Regions from separate parts of the Homo sapiens genome. Here region 1 is linked to region 2. A link means that fine-mapping ties the variant in region 2 to the expression of a gene that starts in the linked region. Tissue or cell type: fibroblasts. Region 2 holds a variant in brackets; the other region holds the start of a gene. All regions are shown on one strand. Distances are between the middles of the regions.

What was found. PIP is the estimated chance that this variant, and not a neighbour inherited with it, causes the effect. A credible set is the group of variants that fine-mapping cannot tell apart.
Region 1: ENDOU starts here. The variant in region 2 is the best candidate, but not a certain one, in a credible set for the expression of ENDOU in fibroblasts (GTEx, PIP 0.51).

What each region holds. Positions count from the first base shown.
Region 1 is chr12:47,723,728-47,727,863 of GRCh38, reverse strand. It overlaps ENDOU (endonuclease, poly(U) specific), which reads left to right and starts at 2,374. Exons shown (of 10, transcript NM_001172439.2): 1 at 2,374-2,505. The coding sequence starts at 2,451. All of the region lies in intron 3 of RPAP3-DT (RPAP3 divergent transcript), which reads right to left. RefSeq lists silencers at 715-774, 1,740-1,859.
Region 2 is chr12:47,638,376-47,642,511 of GRCh38, reverse strand. No RefSeq gene overlaps it. Among named protein-coding and RNA genes, the nearest start is that of RPAP3, 66 kb to the left of the region's middle. The variant C/T (reference allele first, on the strand shown) is at 2,363.

The sequences.
Region 1 (4,136 bases), 85 kb before region 2:
GTGGGGCAATGGAGCAACGGTGCTTATGAGAATGACCCCTGGTCAGATGGATCTGGGTTGAGGCACAGCTGCATAACTTAATGATTGTGTGCTTCTGGGCACGTCTCCTAACCTTTCTGTGCCTCAGTTTCTTCATCTGTAAAATGAGGACAGCAATAGTACCTATTAAGGTTGTAGTGAGAATCAATGAGATAACACATATGATAACACACGTGGTAAGTGCTCAGTCAATGTTGCTGGTGGTTGTTAAGGCTGTTATTCTTATTGAAGGATGCAGTTTTAAACACTTGGGTACTCAGATGAACCATCTGGCTCTATGGAGTCATCCTTAACTGTCTTCCCCAGCTCCAATCCTTGCTCCTGACCTAAAATTCCATTAATGGGGGGAGAGCTCCTGCCCTCAAAACACCATCCCATGGCCAGTTCAGCTGGACACTAGGAGAACCTAGCCAGGCTGTACTCCACTCTGACAGCTTTGGCTTCAGCTAGGGTCCACCCAGCTGGACACTTGGAAGGGACAGACCATTCATTCCCAAATTCTGAGGCATCATTGCTTCCCAGGCCAGCCAGTGACACCCTCCTTTGTCCCCTAAACAACAGGAGTCAGAGACACGTTTATGTGGTGCCAACCCAGGGAGGATGAGGATTCTGAGGGGCAGTGACTCTTCAGCCTGCTTTTGGATTGTGTAAATGAAATCTATGCAAATGAAGCAGCCATTTCTGCTCTTACTCATTCTAACCAGCTCCCTTCTGGGAGAGAAGGGCTAGGCTCACTCTTTAGTTGTGCTTCCGGGCTGGATGCAGTGGCTCACACCTGTAATCCCAGCACTTTGGGAGGCCAAGGTGGGCAGATCACCTGAGGTCAAGAGTTTGAGATCAGGTTGGCCAACATGGTCTCTACTAAAAATACAAAAATTAGCCAGGTGTGGTGGTGCATGCCTATAATCCCAGCTACTCGGGAGGCTGAGGCATGAGAATTGCTTGAGCTGGGGAGATGGAGGTTGCAGTGAGCCGAGATCACACTGCTGCACTCCAGCCTGGGCGACAGAGAGAGAGATTCCATCTCAAAATATATACATACATTGCACTTCCTGTGTGAGCCCCTTGCAAAGTTTGCTTGCCCTAGGCTTGTCCTTCTCTCTACCCCTGAGTCCCTATGTTTGGACTCCTCTCTACACAGCAACAGGCTGGGGGATTCTCTTTAACCCACCAGCAACTGTTCAACCTGGCGCATGGGCAGGAAAACTCGAGATTAAAGTCTGAGAACCTGGAAGGGATTGTCAGATCCAACCCCATCATTTCAGATGAGAAAGCTGAAGACCAGCGAGAGGAAGAAACTTCTCCTGTTAAAGCACACTGGATGAAGACGTGCTCCACTCCCAACCTCCAGAAAAAAATCACTGATAGAGTGGCCTCCACTGTTCACCAATTTTGCCTTTTTATATGATAGTTTTCTTTCCTGAGAGGGTTGAGAATCCCCATGCAGTGCTCTTTCTGGCAAGGGCATCATACTTGGCAGATTTTACCTTTATTATCGGGGAAAACTGGACAGTCACGGGGAGCTGCTCCCCTTCTTTTGGACTTGGAAACAAAAGAACCTCACTGGGGAGGAGTTCCTGAGGAGAGGAGTGTAAGTTGGGGTGAAGGGAGTGAAACCCTGGGCTCCCAGGGGAAGAAGAGTGGGCCTTCGGCTGCCTTTAAGAGGCCTCTTGCCCCTCCCCTGCCTCATAAGGAATCTGAAACGTTTAAACCCCAGAGGCTGACTCAGTAAGAGTCATTTGCATAATATTTTAGAGTGATTTAGCCATGCGCTCGACATGTGGCTGATTTAGCTATGCTGGGCTTGGTGGTCATAAGAATAGCACTGGTTCTGACCGACACATCCTCTATCTCTCTGTCCAATGACCCCAACCCTTGCTTGGGCACTTACTGTTTGTCAAATTTGGACCAATCACCTTACTGTGTGCCAGTGTCATGCTAAGCTCCAGGAATTTGAAGATGAATCCAACCTGTGGCCCCTTGGAAAGTCAGGTCTGAGACTTGGAAGTAGGTGTCTGTTTGGTGGGGATCACCCAAAGATCAGCCCATGGGTGTCCCTAATTTGGACAAAGAACCCTCCAAACTGGACCCATCTTGGTGTGCCTGCCTGCATGACCTATTTTTTAAGCTGCAAACAGCTAGCATTACCTGTTCTCAACATCTGGCATTACCTACCTTCTTAGTCACCTTCCCTCAGGCTTCAAACAGCTGTAGGGCCCCACCTCCTATCCATCTAGGGTCCCTCCCTCCCCTTTTTCTTCCTGAAAGGATCTGGAGACACCAGCTCCACAAGTCCTGGTGTCTTTAAAAGGATCAGCTTGAGGAATAAGGCTCGTCTGAGAGCTGTGACATTCATCTGACTCTAGTGAAAGTCCAACAGCCACTCCCTTTTTGGCCTCCAACTGGGCACCATGAGGGCCTGCATCTCCCTGGTATTGGCCGTGCTGTGTGGCCTGGCCTGGGCTGGTAAGTCACTATCTGGCGGGCATGGGATTGCTGGTGGGGCGGGATCTTGCCTAAAGAAGCAGAGAGTTGGAGAACTTGGTAGAGGGCAGGGCCGTGGGACAAGGGAGGGTGAGCTCTGTCCTAAAGCCGCAGAGCACTTTTGGGTTGTCCTTGTCTGAGGGTGCAGGCGTTGGTCCCGGAATGGACTGGACTATGTGGAGAGAGTTGCAGGGCTGATGGTCTGATTTCATGGAATTCCCTTCTTGACACCTTGGAGGATCAGCCCCAAATATCCCTTAGTCCAGCCTGACTTTTGATCTCCCCAAGATTTTGTTGTCTGGGGCCACTGTAAGGAATAAAGCTAGGGCTGGTGTCCATGGGGTCTGAGTGGCCTGGCTGCCCTTGGTCACTCCTTCCACTGCCTGGTGACAGGTGAGGTTGTTTAGGGTGTGATGTTACTTTGGGTAGAGCCTTAGGAGGTGGGCAGGCTTAGGAGGAAACTGAAAGGACCTTTGACCAGGAGGTGGGCCTCGTCCTATCTGGGGCTGTACAGGGGTCAGAGGAATGGATCTCTGTTGCAGTGTTAGGAGAATTGAAGAATACAGAAGGGACCTGGCCCACAGTTATGAGAGGTCCAGGGGATGGGACTGGCAGAGGAACAGGACCATGTTCCTGTTTAGTAACTGTGCAAAATGCTGGTGCTGATGGGTTAATTGGTAGCTAGTGGGTGGGTGGGAAGGAGTGCCAAGGGAGGGGCTGAGCTGAGGAGTGTGGGGAGAATCCTCCTCTGCCCACAGGAGAAAGAATCCTTCCACTGGGTTGCTCCTGTGTAGGACTGTGGAAAGGATTAAATGAAATAATGTATGAGAAGCACCTGGTGCAAAGTGAGATCTCAGTGAACTGGAAATTCGCTATGATTATGACTATAAATTTTCTTGGGAGAAACTTCCGCTTGGGGTCATTTCCAACTGGGTTGTGGAAAGGAGACCCTTATGGGATTTCTAAGTGGAAAACCCCTGGAAGAGGAAGTTGTGCCTCCCAACCATGGATGAGATAGTGCATCTTACCAGAAACCAGCTCTGCCTGGGCCCTAGTGGGTGGAGAGGCAGTGGGAGAGCATGAGGGTGGGCCTGGGAGCCACCAGCCTCAGCCCTGTTGGTTGGGAGGAAGGTGGAACTTGGGGGCTTAATGTGTAGGGGTGGCCAGCGGGCTTGGCATATTCCAGCCTTAGGGAAGGAGAGCAACTCTGGATATTTGGTCCCTGGGGGGCAGAGGTAGCAGTGGCTTTAGAAGTGCAGGTGGAGCTCTTGCTGCTAGGTCGGAGGGCAGTATCTGCTTTGGCTGTGGGATCGATGGGGAAGTGAGGTCAAGTGTATGAGGCTTCCTAAGGTGGCAGGGAAGAGGCTCTGCACTTGTTGATACTATCCCAACATCTCAGAACTGAGAGGCAAGAATATGAATCACATGGGGAATCACTGACAGCCTCAGGTCCTCCTTTATGAGCTGGATGTCTGTGGAGAACCTTGGTTGATTTTTTTGGTTGTGAATGGAGGCAGGAAGCTAGTCCAAGGGGTGAGGCTTCTTGGTTGACTAGGTCTCCATGGAAACAGCATCTGGGGCCTTCTAACGGTACAGATGTGTAGGATGTCCCA
Region 2 (4,136 bases):
TTCCATTGTATATATGTACCACAGTTTCTTTAATTACTCATTGCTTGATGGGCATTTGGGTTGGTTCCAAGATTTTGCAATTGCAAATTGTGCTGCTGTAAACATGCTTGTGCAAGTATCTCTTTTGTATAATGACGACTTTTCCTCTGGGTAGATATCCAGTAGTAGGATTGCTGGATCAAATGGTAGTTCTACTTTTAGTTCTTCAAGGAATCTCCACGCTGTTTTCCATAGTGGTTGTACTAGTTTACATTCCCACCAACAGTGTAGAAGTTTTTCTGATCACTGCATCCACGCCAACATCTACTGTTTTTTGATTTTTTTATTATGGCCATTCTTGCAGGAGTAAGGTGGTATCACATTATGGTTTTAATTTGCATTTCCCTGATCATTAATGATGTTGAGCATTTTTTCATATGTTTCTTGGCCATTTGTATATTTTCTTTTGAGAATTGTCTATTCATGTTTTTAGCCCACTTTTTGATGGGATCGTTTGTTTTTTTCTTACTGATTTGTTTGAGTTTATTACAGATTCTGGATATTAGTCCTTTGTCAGATGTATAGATTGTGAAGATTTTCTCCCACTCTGTGGGTTGTCTGTTTACTCTGCTGACTGTTCCTTTTGCTGTGTAAAAGCTCTTTAATTTAATTAAGTCCCAACTATTTATCTTTCTTTTTATTGCATTTGCTTTTGGGTTCTTGGTCATGAAATCCTGGCCTAGGCCAATGTCTACAACAAGGGTTTTTCCAGCATTATCTTCTAGAACTTACTTAGTTTCATGTCTTAGATTTAAGCCCTTAATGCATCTTGAGTTGATTTTTGTATAAGGTGAGAGATGAGGATCCAGTTTCATTCTCTTACATGTGGCTAACCAATTATCTCAGCACCACTTGTTGAAAAGGGGATCCTTTCCCCACTTTATGTTTTTGTTTGCTTTGTTGAAGATTAGTTGGCTGTAAGTATTTGGGTTTATTTCCAGGTTCTCTATTTTGTTCCATTGGTCTATGTGCCTATTTTTATACCAGTACCTATGGCCTTAGAGTATAGTTTGAAATCAGGTAGTGTGATGCCTCCAGATTTGTTCTTTTTGCTTAGTCTTGCTTTGGCTATGTACACTCTTTTTTGGTTCCATATGAATTTTAGGATGGTTTTTTTCTAATTCTGTGAAGAATGATGGTGGTATTTTGGTGGGGGTTGTGTTGAATTTGAAGATTGCTTTTGGCAGTCCCCACCAAAATACCACCATCATTCTTCACAGATTCTACCCATTGATTCTTCATTGATTCTACCCATCCATGAGCATGGGATGTGTTTCTATTTGTTTGTGTCGTCTTATGATTTCTTTGAGCAGTGTTTTGTAGTTTTCCTTGTAGAGGTCTTTCGCCTCCTTTCTTAGGTATATTTGTAAGTATTTTATTTTATTTTTTTGTTGCAGCTATTGTAAAAGGGGTTGATTTGATTCTGTGCTTGGTTTGATTCTTGATTTGATTCTCTGCTTGGTTGCTGTTGGTGTATAGAAGAACTACTGATGTGTGTACATTAATCTTGTATCTGAAAGCTTTTCTGAATTATTTTATCAGTTATAGGAGCTTTCTGGAGGAGTCTTTAGGGTTTTCAAGGTAAACGATCATATGGTCAGCAAACAGTGACAGTTTGACTTCCTCTTTACCGATTTGGATGCCCTTTATTTTTTCCTCTTGTCTGATTGCTGTGGCTAGGACTTCCAGGACCATGTTGAAGACGAGTGGTGAGAATGGGCATCCTGGTCTTGTTCCAGTTCTCGGAGGGAATGCTTTCAGTTTTTCCCATTCAGTATTATGTTGGCTGTGGGTTTGTCATAGATGGCTTTTATTACACTGAGGTATGTCCCTTGTATGCCAGTTTTGCTGAGAGTTTTAATCATAAAGCGATGCTGGATTTTGGCAAATGCTTTTTCTGCATCTATTGAGATGATCGTGTGATTTTTGTTTTTAATTCTGTTTATGCAGTATATCACATTTATTGACGTGTGTATGTTAAACCATCCCTGCATCCCTGGTATGAAACCCACTTGATCATGGTGGATTATCTTTCTGATATGTTGTTGGATTCTATTGGCTAGTATTTTATTAAGGATTTTAGCATCTGTGTTCATCAGAGATATTGGTCTATAGTTTTCTTTGTTGCTTACATCCTTTCCTGGTGTTGGTATTAGGGTGATGCTGGCTTCATAGAATGGGTTCCCTCTTTCTCTATGTTGTGGAATAGTGTCAAAAGAATTGGTCCCAATTCTTCTTTGAATGCTGGTAGAATTCTGCTGTGAATCCATCTGGTCCTGGACTTCTTTTTGTTGGTAATGTTTGAATTACCAACTGCTTGTTA[C/T]TGGTCTGTTTAGGGTATCTAATTCTTCCTGATTTAAGCTAGGAGGGTTGTATTTTTCCAGGAATTTTTCCATCTCTTCTAGGTTTTCTAGTTTATGTGCATAAAGGTGTTCATAGTAGCCTTGAATTATCTTTTGTATTTCAGTGGTGTCAGTTGTAATAGCTCTCGTTTCATTTCTTAATGAGGTTATTTGGATTTTCTCTCTTCTTTTCTTGGTTAATCTTGGTAATGGTCTATCAATTTTATTTATTTTTTCAAAGAACCAGCTTTTTGTTTCATTTATCTTTTGTACTTTTTGTTTGTTTGTTTCGATTTCATTTAGTTCTGCTCTGATCTTGGTTGTTTTCTTTCTTCTACTGGGTTTGGGTTTGGTTTGTTCTTGTTTCTCTAATTCCTTGAGGTGGGACCTTAGAATGTCAGTTTGTGTTCTTTCAGACTTTCTGATGTAGGTATGAACTTTAGGGGCTATGAACTTTCCTCTTAGCATTGCCTTTACTGTATCCCAGAGGTTTTGATAGGTTGTGCTGCTATTGTTGTTCAGTTAGAAGAAGTTTTTAATTTCCACCTTGATTTTGTTTTTGACCCAATGCTCATTCAGGAGCAGGCTGTTTAATTTCCATGTATTTGCATGGTTTCAAGGGTTCCTTTTGGAGTTGATTTCTAGTTTTATTCCACTGTCATTTGAGAGAGTGCTTCATATAATTTCAATTTTCTTGAATTTATTGAGGCTTGTTTTATGACCTATCATATAGTCTATCTTGGAGAAAGTTCCATGCGCTGTTGAGTAGAATGTGTATTCTGTGGTTGTTGGAAGAAATGTTCTGTATATATCTGTTAAGTTCATTTGTTCCAAGGTATAGTTTAAATCCATTGTTTCTTTGTAGACTCTCTGTCTTGATGACCTGCTGTCAGTGGAGTATTGAAGTCCCCCACTATTATTGTGTTGCTGTCTATCTCATTTTTTAGGTCTATTAGTAATTGTTTTATAAATTTGTGAGCTCCAGTGTTAGGTGCATATATGTTTAGGACTGTGATATTTTCCTGTTGGACAAGGCCTTTTACCATTATGTAATGTCCCTCTTTGTCTCTTTTAACTGCTGTTTCTTTAAAGTGTGTTTTGTCTGATATAAGAATGGCTACCCCTGCTTGCTTTTGGTATCCACTTGCATGAAATGCCTTTTTCCACCCCTTTAAGCTTATGTGAGTCTTTACGTGTTAGATGAGTCTCCTGAAGGCAGCAGATGGTTGGTGAGTTCTTATCCATTCTGCAGTTCTTTATCTTTGAAGTGGGACATTTAGGCCATTTACAGTCAATGTTAGTATTGAGATGTGAGGTACCATTGCATTCATCGTGCTATTTGTTGCCTATGTACCATGGTTTTTTTGTTTTTTGTTTTTGCTTTTTAAACTGTATTTTGTTTTGTAGGTCCTGTGTGATTTATGCTTTAAAGAGGTTCTGTTTTGATGTGTTTCCAGGATTTGTTCCAAGATTTAGTGCTCCTTTTAGCAGTTCTTACAGTGGTGGCTTGGTACTGGCAAATTCTTTCAGCATTTGTTTGTCTGAAAAAGATTGTATCTTTCCTTCGTATATGATGATTAGTTTTGCTGGATACAAAATTCTTGGTTGATAATTGTTTTGTTTGAGGAGGCCGAAAATAGGGCTCCAATCCCATCTAGTTTGTAAGGTTTCTCCTGAGAAATCTGCTGTTAATCTGATAGGTTTTCCTTTATAGGTTGCCTGGTGCTTTTGTCTCACAGCTTTTAAGATTCTTTC